2 separate regions of the Homo sapiens genome follow, and region 2 is linked to region 1. The links come from fine-mapping of genetic effects on gene expression. Tissue or cell type: whole blood. Region 1 holds a variant in brackets; the other region holds the start of a gene. All regions are shown on one strand. Distances are between the middles of the regions.

Region 1 (8,372 bases):
ACCTCGCACCTCTTAATGAGGATTTTGAGCTGCTGTGGCATTGTGTGCTGATATCTTAGATTTCTGTCTGGATCACAGTGGTCATTAACAATTCCACCCCTCAATAACTTTAAGGCCCTGATGTCCCTCTTATCAGTACCAACTGTACCGTGAACTACAGATCTCTGTAGTTTCACTGACCCCTTGGGGACTGGATTGCTATACTTGGGCTGTTCAGGGCTTGGGGCCCAGAGAAATGAGATGGGAGGCAAATACCAAGTTGGTATTACCTGACTCCGTTTCATTCAGGAAATGAAAATCAATTCTAGAAAATCATTCAAGCTGAAGATGCAGTGAGACGTGATTGAGATTCTTTGATGACTTCTAATTTTTATCACAGCTTTCAGGAGAGCAAGAAATCCATTTTGACTCCTATCATGTTGAGCCAGTCCTTGCCCTTCAGGAAGCCTTTCTCAGAGGGTAAACAAGTAGGTGTTTTTGCCTTCCCAGGCTACTTAGTTAATTTTCCAGAAGTTTCTCTAAGTCTGAGCAAAGATTCTCAAGTTAGCCACTAGATGGCACCAAATCCCAGGAGACAATAGAGGGTTCTTTGTGATCTTAGATGTTCACTTACTCTTCTTCGCTGGCTAAGAAGACTCAGAAGGGCTCTGGGGAGCAAAGGAGAGAGAACCTGGAGAAGGTCAGCGGTCAGCACTAGAGGTGTGCAAAGGGACAGCAGTACAGCTGGTGTGCACACGCGTGCACACCCACCACCATTCGTGCTCCAACACTCACATCTAACACTACTACCCAGGAAAGTGATGGGAGGTCGAGTGGGCAGTCCACCCACAACACCCCCCAAACACTGAGTCAGAGGATTTATTTTCAACTGCGTGTGTGAGCTATTTGGCAGGATCAGGCAGAAAATTTGCAGCCACAGTTATCGTGGTCTAAGTATCCGATGGCTTGTGCCAGTGGTTCTCTGGGTGTGGTACCTGATCAGTAACAGCATGAACCTCCACCTTGTGAGATATGCAGATTCTTTTTGCCCCCCCGCCCCCCGCCTCGTCCCTTTCCCCCAAGGACTGAATCAGAAACTGGGTGTGGAGCCCAACAAGTTGTGTTTTGTTTTTTGTGTTTTTCTGAGACAGGGTCTCGCTCTTGCCCAGGCTGGAGTGCGGTGGTGCGATCTCAGCTCACTGCAGCCTTGAATTCCAGGCTCAAGTGATACTCCCACCTCAGCCTCTCGAGTAGCTGGGACTACAGGCGAGTGCCACCAAGCCCAGTTATTTTTTAAAATGATTTTTATAGAGACGGGATCTCACTATGTTGCCTAGGCTGGTCTCGAACTCCTAGGCTCAAGAGATCCTCCTGCCTTGGCCTCTCAAAGTGCTGGGATTACAGGTGTGAACCTCTGTCCAGCCAATAAGCTGTGTTTTAACAAGTGCTCAGGGTGGTTCTGCTGCAGGAAACTACTGGCTGATGGATACATGGATTCCATTATCCACCCATTCATTGATTCCTGCATTCACTCATCCAACCCTAAAGGAGGTAACCAAAACAGAGACAATCCCATGTGTAAGCATGACATATCTTCTCTGCCTTCTCTACCCAGCAAAATGATACGAAAATGCATTGCGAATATGTTTATAAATCAAGCTCCTTTTCCATCAGGTAGAATTCCTAGTGCTGTCAGCTAAAATGAAGATTTCTCCAAGATGGGCCTCCAGGGCTATTGCAAAACAGCTGCTGATGGAAGGAAATTCCACTTGCTGTGCCTTATACCAGGCTGGGAGTGTCACAAGAACCCTTTACAAGCTGCTCCCACAATGACCAAAACTGTCTTCTCATGAGTGCAAAGCAGGCATGCCCAAGGGGCCCAGGTTAGCATGGTGCAGGACTCCGCTGGGAAGGTGAGGGGTTATCGTCGCGGGGGAGTGTCGACTAACTGGGCTGGTGGTGCAGGGGTAAAATAATTTACCAAGACAGTTGGAGGTAAAGGCAGATTTATTAGAGAAAGTAGGAAAATACGTTTCGAGAAGGCAACGGGCAGCCTGCAAGAGAGGAGCCGACTGAAAAGAAACAAAGGCTTGCTGGAGATTTTATAGGATGGTTTTTGGGCTGATTGAGAAAACCAAGGCAGTAGGGAGCTAGCTTGCATTCTTCTGTTAGCTGGGGTGTTTGATAAATTGAGGCGTTTGATAGTGAGCAGGAAGTTTGTGAGTTATGTATGTTATCTGCGCAAGAAGCCACATGTCCTGGGCCATAAAGAAAAGCAGACCTATAGCTTATCTGATTCCTCTTTTTGTTTATATGTTCTGGACCATGAAGAAAGACAAACTTATAGCTTATTTGCTTTCTCCCTTTGCCTTCCCCTGCTCCAGCCAGCCTAACTCCTTTTTTCTAATTAGGATTCCACAGTTATGTTGTCCCTGTGCCTGCAGCCTGTGAATGGACGCCCCACCACCTCCGTCACAGCAGTGGTCAGCACAGATAAATGCACACAACACACATCGATCTGGCCCTCTGAGAAGAGAATGTTAGGCTTCTGAAAGAAGAGATAAATAGTGAGAGATAACATCTAAGAATCAAAATAATATATTCAGTAATTATTTTCTGAACCTATCCTAATGCTCTGACCGATACATTCTTTAGAACATCTACCCGTACATTCCAAGGACCCTTTTTCCACGGCCCTTTTTCTCCCTGTATCCCTCTTCCTGCTCCCCTTCTTTTGCACAGGGCATGTTTCACATATACAAGATGTTCTTACGTGTCATCCCACTTTAGAGATGAGGAAATTGAGTCTCAGGGAAGGCAAACATCAACTTTGTCTTGGGGAAAGGGCAGGAAGCTGGAAGGGAGGAGGAAATGAGCTCTGGCGAAGGAAAGAGGACATGGCTGGGATCCTTATGGGGTGGTGTACGAGTACCCGTGCCCCCCCCGATCTGTGGGCTGAGGGTGGCGGTGACTAGCGCTGGGACCAGCTCCTTCTCTCTCGCTCCCAAGCCCACAAGAATTCGGGGAGAAAGGGTGAGGTAGGGGGCTCCGGGAGAGCGGAGAGAGTTTGGAAAGAATCCATCCCTCCTTCTCCCCGGCGGCTTTCTCGAGACCCTCACACAGCGCCCCGCCCCGCCCCAGTACATTTCCTTTCAGGGAAAGGGACAGGGAAGAGGCTGTCGGGAAATGGCGGCCGCGGCCGGGCTGGGGCTTCAGCGGGAGGCAGCAGAGGGGAAGTGGTCAGCGTGGCGAATGACGGAAGGTGGCGAGGGAGAGGAAGAGGGGTCGGGTGTCCGCGGAGCTCCAAGAGGGAAGACAATCGCTTTGCCAAACACGGCAGGGCATCTGGAAAGGCCTGGGAACCTCACCCGCCCTCCCAGGCCCTTCGGGCTCTTTTCGGTCCCATTAGGAGGAGGGGGAGGGCGGCAGGTGGGACCGGGCACAGGCCTAGTCGTGCGACAGGAGAAGGGAAGGAAGGGCCGGCCCCAGCTGGGTCCTCCTTGCGTCTGGCCTGTGCCGGACGCCCCCGACTCCGAGTGATCTCGGGCCGGTCCCCGGGGGAGTCCAGCTTCTCGCGCCAGGGGAGTTCTCAGCCCCAGGGCAGTCCAGGGATTAGGCGGAAGGGGGCACGCAGCCACCTGGCCGGGGCAGGGGGAGCTGCGAGGAGCCTTTTTTTTTTTTTTTTTTCCTGCGCAGAGCCCCTTGCGTGACACACAGTAGGCGCTCAATACATGTTTATTTTCAGTTGAGTGTTGCTTCAGCTTTTATGGCTTGTGATAAATCCTTATCCTTCTGTTCTAGAAACTCGCATTGTCTACTGGATCAAGGACAGACAGCTCACCAACC[G/A]TGACAGCACCATACTGGAACTTCAAAAAGTTCTGAAAACATGTTGGTTCGTTTGTTGGAGTATTTTTCAACTTAAATTCCTTTTCCTTTTTTTTTTTTTTGCTCACTTTTTCCTCTGCAGAAAAACCTTAAAATGTTCTACCTTTTCCTTGAAACCTCCTCCCACTCCTTAGTTCACATTGACTTGTCTTTAAATGTTTTTGAGAAAATAATCAGAAATGCACAATTAGTGCTTGGTGGTTCTCAAATTATTTCACGCGTGGTAGTTTTGATTTTTGCTTTTCCAGTGAGGCTGTACCTTTCATCCTTAGGCAAATATGATGGCTTTCAAAAGCAGCTATGGGGTGGGAACTGGGAGTGGCTGCAAATGGGCATGGAGCGTCTTTTAGAGATAACGAAAATGTCCCAACTTAGATTGTGGTGATAGTTCGCACAACTCTATAAATTACTAAAAACTATTGAATTTGCACTTGAAAAGGGGGAGAACTTTATGAAATATAAATTATAACTCAAAGAAGCTCTTAAAATGCCTATGGAATAATAAGTAAAGAGTAGTGGGGATATGATCTATTTTGTGGGGAGACTAGCAGCAAAGTAAGACATAAAGATAAAGAAACATACACTGGCCTGAGGAAGTAACAAAGTCTCTTTGAGCAAACTTTGGACAGGCTCCTCTCAGCTTTCTTTTCAACTACACCTTGTCCTTGGGCCCTGTCCTCGGCCTGCCTAGCCCAGTTTTAGCAAGAGTCCTGCTGAGTAACTCCCTCACCCTTGATACCTGATCACCTTGTCCTGCCTTGAGCGAGAATCCTGTTTAGTCAGTTGAGCAAGAATCCCCCTACCCTTGATATCTCTCTCCCCTTAGGAATTTTCTTTCTACTGACTCCCTCACTCTGCTGCTTGACTGTAAATCCACACTTGTCCTAGTTGTCTTTGGATTGAGCTTAGTTCTATACTGAAGTCTCTTTTCCTCTATTATAATAGTACTCAAAATATGGCTTTACTGCTTTTGACTAGTATCTGGCTCTGTTTCCCATTGGCGGAAGGCACTCTCAGACAGTGCTTCTAGTAGTATATATTAGCATGACCTGCCAGGGTACAATTCTTTTTAAAAAGACCACCAATTGGCTGGATGCAGTGGCTCACGCCTGTAATCCCAGCACTCTGGGAGGCCGAGGCGGGTGGATCAGGTCAGGAGTTCGAGACGAGCCTGGCCAACATGGTGAAACCCCCATCTCTACTAGAAATACAAAAATTAGCTGGGCATGGTGGTGTGCGCCTGTAATCCCAGCTACTTGGGAGGCTGAGGCAGGAGAATCACTTGAATGCAGGAGGCGGAGGTTGCAATGAGCCAAGATTGTGCCACTGCACTCCAGCTTGGGTGACAGAGTGGGCCTCCGTCTCAAAAAAAAACAAAAACAAAAAAAAGACCACCAATTTATTGCCAGGCATTGTACTGGGTGCTGAGGAAATTTGAGGAAAAACACCTATTAAGTTCCTGTCCTCAAGGAGCTCATAGTACAGTGGGGAGCCAAGTAGCAAGCAAATAGCCATGCAAGTGTATAATTGCAATGAGGACAAGTATCATGAAAAGGAGGGTACATGGTGCAATGAGAGCCTATAAAATAGGGGTATTCGACTAGTCAAGGTGGTCAGGAATTGCTTCAAAGAAGCAGTTATTGAGCTGAGAGTTAAAGGAAGAATAGTGGCTAATTAGATTGGAGGTGAGAGTTGGAGGAGCTGGTTTGAGGCTATGTGTTCAGAGATGGCATGGTGAGTAAAAGAGACTGAATGAAAGTGGCTGGAGTTCAACAGGCAGTTGGGACAGCAGTGTGTTGGGTCAGGGCATGCAGGGCCTTACAAGCCATCTTAAGCCATTCAGTCTATATCCTAAGAGCCATTGGAAGCCCTGTGGGATGGGGAGAACGAATCAGATTTGTCTTTGAAAATATTGCCCTGGGGGCCAGGCACAGTGGCTCATGCCTGTAATCCCAGCACTTTGGGAGGCTGAGGCAGGTGGATCACCTGAGGTCGGGCATTCGAGACCAGCCTGGCCAACCAACATGGTGAAACCCCGTCTCTACTAAAAATACAAAAAGTTAGCCGGGCATGGTGGTGCATGCTTGTAATCCCAGCTACTCGGGAGGGTGAGGCAGGAGAATCGCTTGAACCCGGGAGGCAGAGGTTGTGGTGAGCTGAGATCGCGCCATTGCACACCAGCCTGGGCAACAAGAGCAAAACTCTGTCTCAAAAAAAAAAAAAAAAAAAAAGAAAGGAAAAGAAAATATTGCCCTGGCTACAGTGTGGATAAAGGATTGGGAAGGAGTCAGAATGTATGGAGAGTTTTATTAGAAGCCATTTCAACAATCTAGAGTAGAGGTAATAGTAGCTTGTACTACAATAGCCATGGTTTACATGGAGGGGATTGGTATATTTTAGGGTTTCTTAGGAGGTAAAATCTGCAGGACTTGGCAATGGATTGGAATTGGGAGGGAGGGAGTGTGATATTGTGAAGTACACATTTAGTCTTTAGTTTGTTTTGTGCTGCTATAACAATACCCGATAGTGGGTAATTTATAAACAGAAATTTATTGCCTTACAGTTCTGGAAGATAGGAAGTCTAAGGTTAAGGTGTGGGCAGGTTTGGTGTCTGGTGAGGCCATTCTCTTTTTCCAAGATGGTCCCTGCACACACTGTGTCCTCCAGAGGGGAGGAAGGCTAGATCATGACATGGCAGAAGACAGAAAGAAGGGCCAAGAGATAGAGCAAGAGGAGACCGATCTTGCCCTTTTATAATGGCATTAATCCCACCTGTGAGGGTAGAGCCCTCATGGCTTAATCACCTCTTAAAAGTCTCACCTCTTAATACTATTACTGCAACCGCCCAGTGGGTTCACCTTGCCTGCTGCCTAGACAGAGATTTATCAAGACAGGAGAGTTGAAATGAAGAAAGAGTAATTCACACACAGCCGGCTGTGCAGGAGACCAGAGTTTTGTTATTACTTAAATCAGTCTCCCAGAGCATTTGGGGGATCAGTTATTATTATTATTATTATTATTATTATTATTATTATTATTTGAGACAGAGTCTTGCTCTGTTGCCCAGGCTGGAGTGCAATGATGTGATTTCGGCTCACTGCAACCTCTGCCTCCCGGGTTCAAGCGATTCTCCTGCCTCAGCCTCCCGAGTAGCTGGGATTACAGGTGCCCGCCACTATGCCAGGCCAATTTTTGTATTTTTTAGTAGAGATGGGGTTTCACCATGTTGGCCAGGCTGGTCTCGAACTCCTGACTTCAGGTGATCCACCCGCCTCAGCCTCCCAAAGTGCTGGGATTACAGGCGTGAGCCACCGTGCCTGGCTGGGATCAGAGTTTTTAAAGATAACTTGGTGGGTAGGGGCTTGGGAAGTACGGAGTGCTGATCAGTCAGGTTGGAGATGGAATCATAGGGGGTCGAAGTGAGTCTTTCTTGCAGTTTTGTGTTCTGGGTGGGATGGCAGAACTGGTTGAGCCAGATTACAGGTCTGGGTGGTGTCAGCTGCTCCATCGAGTTCAGGGTCTGAAAAGTATCTCAGGCACTGATCTTAGGTTTCACAATAGTGATGTTATCCCCAGGAGCAATTTGGGGAGGTTCAGACTCTTGGAGCCAGAGGCTGCATGACCCCTAAACTGTAATTTCTAATCTTGTAGCTAATTTGTTAGTCCTGCACAGGCAGACTAGTCCCCAGGAAAGAAACGCCTATGATCAATTTTGTTTCAGAATCAAACCACAAACTGAATTCCTTCCCAAAGTTAGTTTGACCTATGCCCAGGAATGAACAAGGACAGCTTAAAGGTTAGAAGCAAGGTGGAGTCGGTTAGGTCTGATTTCTTTCACTGTCATAATTTCCTCAGTTATAATTTTGCAAAGGTGATTTCATTACAATGGCAATTAAATTTTTCATTTTTATTTTATTTATATATATATATTTTTGAGACGGAGTCTCACTATGTTGCCCAGATTGGAGTGCAGTGGCGCAATCTTGGCTCAGTGCAACCTCTACCTCCTGGGCTCAAGCGATTCTCCTGCCTCAGCCTCCCGAGTAGCTGGGATTACAGGCGCCCACCACCATGCCCAGCTAATCTTTGTATTTTTACTAGAGACAATGTTTCACCATGTTGGCCAGGCTGGTCTTGAACTCCTGACCTCAGGCGATCCACTGGCCTCGGCCCCCCAAAGTGCTGGGATTACAGGCGTGAGCCACCATGCCCATGGGGCAATTAAATTTTAACATGAGTTTTGGAGAAGACAAACATTCAAACCATGGTAGTCTTCATCCTCATTTTCGCGAATTACAGCTTTTAAAACCCTTAGAATCTCTGAGGTGATGAGAGTATCTTTTGCCCTGGGTGGTGGCTCACGCTTGTAATCCCAGCACTTTGGGAGGCCGAGGTGGGCGGATCACCAGGGGTCAGGAGTTTGAGACCAGCCTGACCAACATCGTGAAACCCCATCTCTACTAAGAATACACAATTAGCCGGGCATGGTGACACATGCCTGTAATCCC
Region 2 (6,598 bases), 65 kb after region 1:
GTACTCATACAACCATCCTGTTTTTCTTTCAATGTAGTATTCAATAAATTATGTGAGATATTCAACACTTTATTATAAAATAGGCTTTGCATTAGATGATTTTGCCGAACTGTCAGCTAATGTGAGTGTTCCGAGCATTTTTAAGGTAGGCTAGGCTATGATGTTTGGTAGGTTGGATGTATTAAATGCATTTTAGATTTATGGTATTTTCAACCTATAAGTTTATTTGAACATGACCCCATTATAAGTTGAGAAACATTTGTACACAGTGTGCATGAGAGTGTGGGGAAATAGATCCTGTCTTATGTTTGATGGGGGTATAAATTGGCCAAGCCTTTTTGGAGGACAGTTTGGTGGTATATCCATTAACTATATAAAATCTCACATCCTTCTTTTGGCAATATCAAATGTATAAAATCTCATACATTTAAGCAAATAATTATATTTATAGTAGAATATCCTAAAGAAATTCTTCTACCTGTTGGCAAAGCTTTATGTGCCAGACTGTTCATTGTAACCTTGCTTTATTAGCTCCGGATCCAGAACTCATAATATGCAGCAGTTAAAAAGAATGAAGCAGCTTTAAATGTACTGGTATGTAGAGCTCTTTGAGACATAATTTTAAATGAAAAAAAAGCAAGTTGCAAAACAGTATGTTAATTATGATCCTGGCCAGGCGTGGTGGCTCACACCTGTAATCCCAGCACTTTGAGAGGCCCAGGTGGTTGGATCACTTGAGGCCAGGAGTTTGAGACCAGCCTAGCCAACATGGTGAAACCCAGTCTCTACTAAAAATACAAACATTAGCTGGGCATGGTGGTGCGCACCTGTAATCCCAGCTACTAGGGAGGCTGAGGCATGAGAATCGCTTGAACCCGAGAGGTGGAGGTTGCGGTGAGCCAAGATCGCACCACTGCACTCCAGCCTGAGTGAAAGAGCAAGACTCCATATAAAAAAAAATCTCATTTATATATTTTAATAAGACATGTATGTGTATATCATGTATACAAAAGGTTAATACACCAAACTTAAAATGGAGAGGTAACTGTGATTTGGGTGAGGATAGGGGAGTGAAAGTGGTACTAGTGCTTTTTCTGGGTTTGACTATTCTTTTCTTTTCTTTTCTTTTCAGAGACAGGGTTTCACGCCATTGCCGGTCTGGAGAGCAGTGGTGCAATCATAGTTCACTGTAACCTTGAATTCCTAAGCTCAAACAATCTTCTTGCCAAGTAGCCTCCCAAGTAGCTAGGACCACAGGCATGCACCACTAAGCCCAGCTATTTTTTTTTTTTAATAGACAGGTTTCCCTATGTCGGGAAACCTATGTAGGGTGGTCTCAAACTCTTGGCCTCAAGTAATGCTCTTGCCTCAGACTCCCAAAGTATTGGGATTATAGGCGTGAGCCATCACACTTGGCCTTGGGTTTGAATTTTATACTAGAATTGTACTCTTGTGGGATTTGTATGTAAAGTAAACAGCAAATATTAAAACACCCCAATTATCTTTCCACTGGGATACACAGAGCTAACTCCATCAGCCACATTGTATAAATATAACATGAGTTATTTAATCTCTCCCCTATCAATAGCCATTTTATGTTGCGTCAGGCTTTTTTTTTTTTTTTTTTTTTTTTTGACAGAGTCTCACTCTGTCAGCCAGACTGGAGTGCAGTGGCGTGATCTAGGCTCACTGCAACCTCCATCCCTTGGGTTCAAGCCATTCTCCTGACTCAGCCTTGCAAGTAGCTGGGGTTATAAGCGCCTGCCACTGCGCCCGGCTAATTTTTGTATTTTTAATAGAAACGGGGTTTCACCACGTTGGCCAGGCTGGTCTTGAACTCCTGACCTCGTGATCCACCTGCTTCGGCCTCCCAAAGTGCTGGGATTACAGGTGTGAGCCACCGTGCCCGGCTGCGTCAGTTTTTTCAAACCTTACAAGCATTGCGAAAAAAAAAAATTCTAGTAAATATATCTTTGTGAAACTGTGTAGGCATATAGGTTGGCTAAATTCCAAGGAATAGAATTATTGGGTCAAAGAATTTGTGAAATATTATAGTTATCATTTAATAGAGTTTGCCAAATTGCCCTATATAAAAAGCTTGCATCAATATCTGCCTCCAACAGAGTAGAGGAGTGCCCATTTCTTGACAAACCAGTCAACAATATTATCAAGTTTCTAAACTTTGAGAAAATCATACTTGAAACATGGTAAGGCATAGTTGCTTTGATTTGCATTTCTTTGTTTGAGCATCTTTTCATATGTTTATTAGTAATCTATTTCTTTTCTGTGAACAAATCTGTTCATGTCTTTTGGCACATTTTTCTATTGGGTTGTTTATCATTTTACTAATGATCTGTAAGAGCTTTTAGATTATTACAAGTTAGCCTTTTGACAGTCAATGTTTATGGTTTTTTTTTTTTACTTTACCAAAGTTTAAAATTTGTATGCAATTAATTTATCAATATTTTCCTTTGGTGGAGAAAGTAAGTTCGTCACTTTCAATTGAGTTCTGAAAAGCCATTAGTAAGATTGTAAGGCACTAGGACTTCCTTTCTTGGCTCCTGAAAGGGCCTCCTCCACACAGGGGCCCCTCACAGTGGAGCCCCTCCCTCTGGGGTGTCCTATTTCAATGTTCTAAGAAAGAGGCTGCCTGGAGGGTCTATATTTGGAGTATGACTCCTCAGCGGGGACAGGTGGATGCGTGGGGACTAACTTCTGCATATTTGGTCCCTGAGTTTTGGGATTATTCTGAGGGGCTTGTATGGGAGGTGCAGTGAAGTTGTAACACAAGGCAGGACATGAAAAAACTTCTTTTTCTTGGCAATTGCTTGGGATCCTGTACATTGCCCTTCCACTTGTGAGGGAAAAAAATAATGACACGGACATCAGGTGTGTTGCAGTGATTCACAGTCATCCACAGACCCTCACCACCATCTCCACTGGAAAATATTGAACACTCGCCACTGCTAGGGTAGTATGTAGTACATGAATGGCAGACACCGGCGAGATCTCAAGTGTTACGACGGATGAAAATTCCACCTGTTAAGTCTCCTTTCCATCCAAGCTCTAGCAGTTGGTTGTTCCATGGGTGTGGTGAGGCTGATCTGATTACATGCTTATGTAAAATCCAAATAAAGCCCCTTGAATGGAAAACAGGTTAATTTGGGAAGTCACTAGTAAAGCAGGTTAATTTGGTAAGTCACTAGTAAAGCACTAGGCTCATCAGGAGTTGGGTCTTAAATATATCCTCTAGAAGTCTTCTCTGAAGAAGGTCTTAGACACCTGAAAAAAGATGCTGAGTTCAGCCAGAACTTCAAAAGTTACAAATCACCTGTGTAAAATTGTCAATATTAGAAAACGAAATGTCTTTCCAAAGATTAACTTATAGATCATATTGAATACGTGCTGGTTTTGTTTAGGACAATTTTGTATTTAAAATGTCAAGAATTACTAGTCAATTTTGAAAGCTGTAAAATAGTTTGCAGTAACAGAAGACATTTTAAAATGTGGCACAAAATAATGTAAACAAAAGAATGAGTCTTTTGTTATTTTTACACCCTGAATATTTTTTGTGTCAAATGAAAATGGCTATACTGTATTTTCTGATTACAATATTAGAAAAGAATGTCATATTAAAAGAAAAAAAAGGAACACGAAAAAGAAAATTAAAGCTCTACTTGCACCTTCTGCTTTCCTTCCTGATACCCCCTTCCACAGCCCATTTGGTGCAGGCATTGTACTTAGAGAGGGCAGGTCGTGTAGGGGGCGGGTGGGGAGTGCTGGTCTTATAGTCTAAGAGAGAAATAAGTGATTACTCAAAGAAGAAACATAAAAGGCCACAGCCAAGGGCCGGGAGTGGGTAGGGGGATGCAGACCCTCCCCTGTAACTGAAGATGGGTAAACTCCAACCACAAGGCGATGATGCCACTTGTGGGCCCTCAGATTGGAGAGGACGGAGATGAGTGACAACGCGTGCGCACTGGGGCACCGAGCACAGACCAGAGAACGGGGATGTCTGTGCGTGCGGAGTGGAGGAGGGGGGAGTTCCTGGTGACTGGCCGCCGGCCCTTGGTGGGTGGTAGGGGGTGCTGGGGAGGAGGGCGAGCTCGGCGGTGACGCGCGGTCCTCACGTGACCCGGAGCTGCAGAGCTACGCAGCCTTCGTTGCAGTCGTCACTCGCATCTGGCTACCAGCTCCCCGCTGCCCTGCGCTCGGCGGGCTGGCATCGGGCCCGGGGAAAGCGGAGCAGGTAAGGGCCCTGGGGCCCGCGCGCCCTGGCCAGGCCGGCAGAAGCTCACTGACCCCGGCAGCGGTTACGGGGCTTGAGGGGGCGGTGGTCTATGCTGCCTCAAGTTCGAGGAGCCTTTGCCTCTGATTCTCCCTAGCCCCCTTGCCCCCGCCTACATCTGTGCAGGCGAACCGTGGGCTTTGATTTGTGGGGAGATTGTCTCTGCCAGAGGGAAATACAGAGATTGAGATGCCCATCGCTCTAATCACTGGCCACACATGTCCGCTCGCTTCCTGCTCAATTTAGTGGAAGGGATGCGCCACGGTGGCGTTTGCAGAGAAAATGGTGGGCCTTAGAGACTGGACGGTGGGGTTGGTAAGGGTGGTGTCTCAGACTGTGGGGAGGGACGTTTGATAACCAGGTTCCTGAACCCGGAAAGGCGAGTATTGGGATCTATGTCCTGGGCTCTAGACCAACACTAAGTGGTTTTACTCTCTCCTGTCTGTCGGACAGTAGTTCGGTGTAGCACTGTTTGCGGCGAGGAGAAAGGAAGGAGAGGAGAAAACTGCACTGGATCAAGGAGGTTAGTGTGAGTACAGACACTATCTAAACCATTGGAGTTCCATATGAATTCTATGACAGGAACTTAGGTGCGGCTGTCTGAATGGGATGTGGGGTGGGGCTAGCTTGGGGACTTTCCCTAAACTGCATTTTACTTACCAAGCTTAGGACTTTTAAATTGTATGTTGAAGACCAATGAAGACAGCAAACTTTTCTACAGATGCTTTTATTTGCATTTCAGATAATATTGAGAAAAAGATAAATTATATTAAAGAATATTATTATTATTATTATTTTTTAGATAGCCTTTGGTGGGGAAGGATAGTGATTTTGTAGAAGCAAAAGGCTTCCCCTATAGCTTTTCTCTTCTGCTGGAGACTCCTAGAGATAGGTTGAAAGGGACGTGGACAGCAGTAGGTTGTGGTTCTAGAGTATGGGATCTGGGGTCTCCCATCTCTCCTGCCATCCTTCAGTTTTCCAGATCCCTCTACCTACCTGACCATCTTGGTGAAGGAAATGGTGGGCTTTTGGGGAAATCCCTAGAACCCTACAGGTGGTTTTAAAATAATTTGCCTTGTTGGGCCTAGTAGCTCTTGCCTGTAATCCCAGCACTTTGAGAGACCCAAGCAAGAGGATTGCTTGAGCTCAGGTGTTCAAGACCAGCCTGGGCAACATAGCGAGACTTCATCTCTACATATAATTTAAAAATTAGCTGGGTATGGTGGCACAGTCTGTAGTTCCTGCTACTTGGGAGGCTGAGGTGGGAGGATCTTTTGAGCCTGGGAGGTCGAGACTGTGGTGAGCCATGATCTTGCCACTGCAATCCAGCCTGGGTGACAGAGTGGGGCTCTGTCTCAAAATAAATAAAAAATAAAATAAATAAAATAAAATAAAATAAAATAAAATAACGTGCCTCTGTCTGTTGCCTTTTACTTTTCCTGCCTCCCTTTTCCATCCTTCCCATTTCAGTGCTGGGGAAGCCCCAGGCTTTTTTTTTTTTTTTTTTCTGCCAGCAAATGGGTCTCTAAATCCAGGCAGGCAGGTACAGGGACCTATGTCTTAGATGGTAAGTGTCACAAGTACTTAACATCCACTCTCTTCTTTTTCTCCATCTGTTCCAAGGTCTTCCCATAGGCCTGCAGTAGGGCTGTTTACCATTGGAAGCAAGGGAAAGAGGAGGAGATCAATCTAGAAGCATGGAGGTTGGTGTGAAGTGGGGGTAGTCTCTGGGGATGACAAGAGAGGGTGGGCATAGGAGGTGGGTGAGATTTAAGAGGGTCTCAGTGGAGTGCTGGATTGCCACAGTGCTGCCATGCCTCCTGTGGATTTCAGTGCAGGAAATGATAGGAATATGGGGGTAAGGGTGGGCTGGAGTATGACTGGGGGAAGACTTGATGGGGGGACCATGAGATGGTACACATTAGTATATAGAACCTGGGCTCTGGCGAGGCAGACATTGGGGTCAGGGATCAGGTTGCTTGTCTGTTCTACCAGGGACTCGGTTTCCATTACCTACTGTTTGTTTACTTGTCCATAGATCTGCCTGCATGTCTGCTGCAGGGCTTAAGATCACTGGAAGCAAAGAAACAAAGAGGAGATTGCTCCTGATCAGTATAGACTGGTAAGAGTGTGGGGACTGCCTGGGTAGACCTCTAGAGTGGGTTGGTGGAGACCAGTGTGCATCCAGTAAGGACCAGTGACCAGTCTGGAGGATGAGGATCCTCAGTCTCTCCTTTTCCAGCCACCTTTCCCACCATCCCTGTCATTTACTCCATACCCTCACCTTAATTCTGGTACAGGGAAAAGAGT

Evidence for each region. PIP is the estimated chance that this variant, and not a neighbour inherited with it, causes the effect.
Region 2: ARMCX4 starts here. The variant in region 1 is fine-mapped to the expression of ARMCX4 in whole blood (TOPMed, PIP 0.98).

What each region holds. Positions count from the first base shown.
Region 1 is chrX:101,415,130-101,423,501 of GRCh38, forward strand. It overlaps a transcript of ARMCX4 not described here. Among named protein-coding and RNA genes, the nearest start is that of HNRNPH2, 11 kb to the left of the region's middle. The variant G/A (reference allele first, on the strand shown) is at 3,826.
Region 2 is chrX:101,481,282-101,487,879 of GRCh38, forward strand. It overlaps ARMCX4 (armadillo repeat containing X-linked 4), which reads left to right and starts at 4,175. Exons shown (of 6, transcript NM_001256155.3): 1 at 4,175-4,249; 2 at 4,742-4,811; 3 at 5,912-5,991; 4 at 6,327-6,410.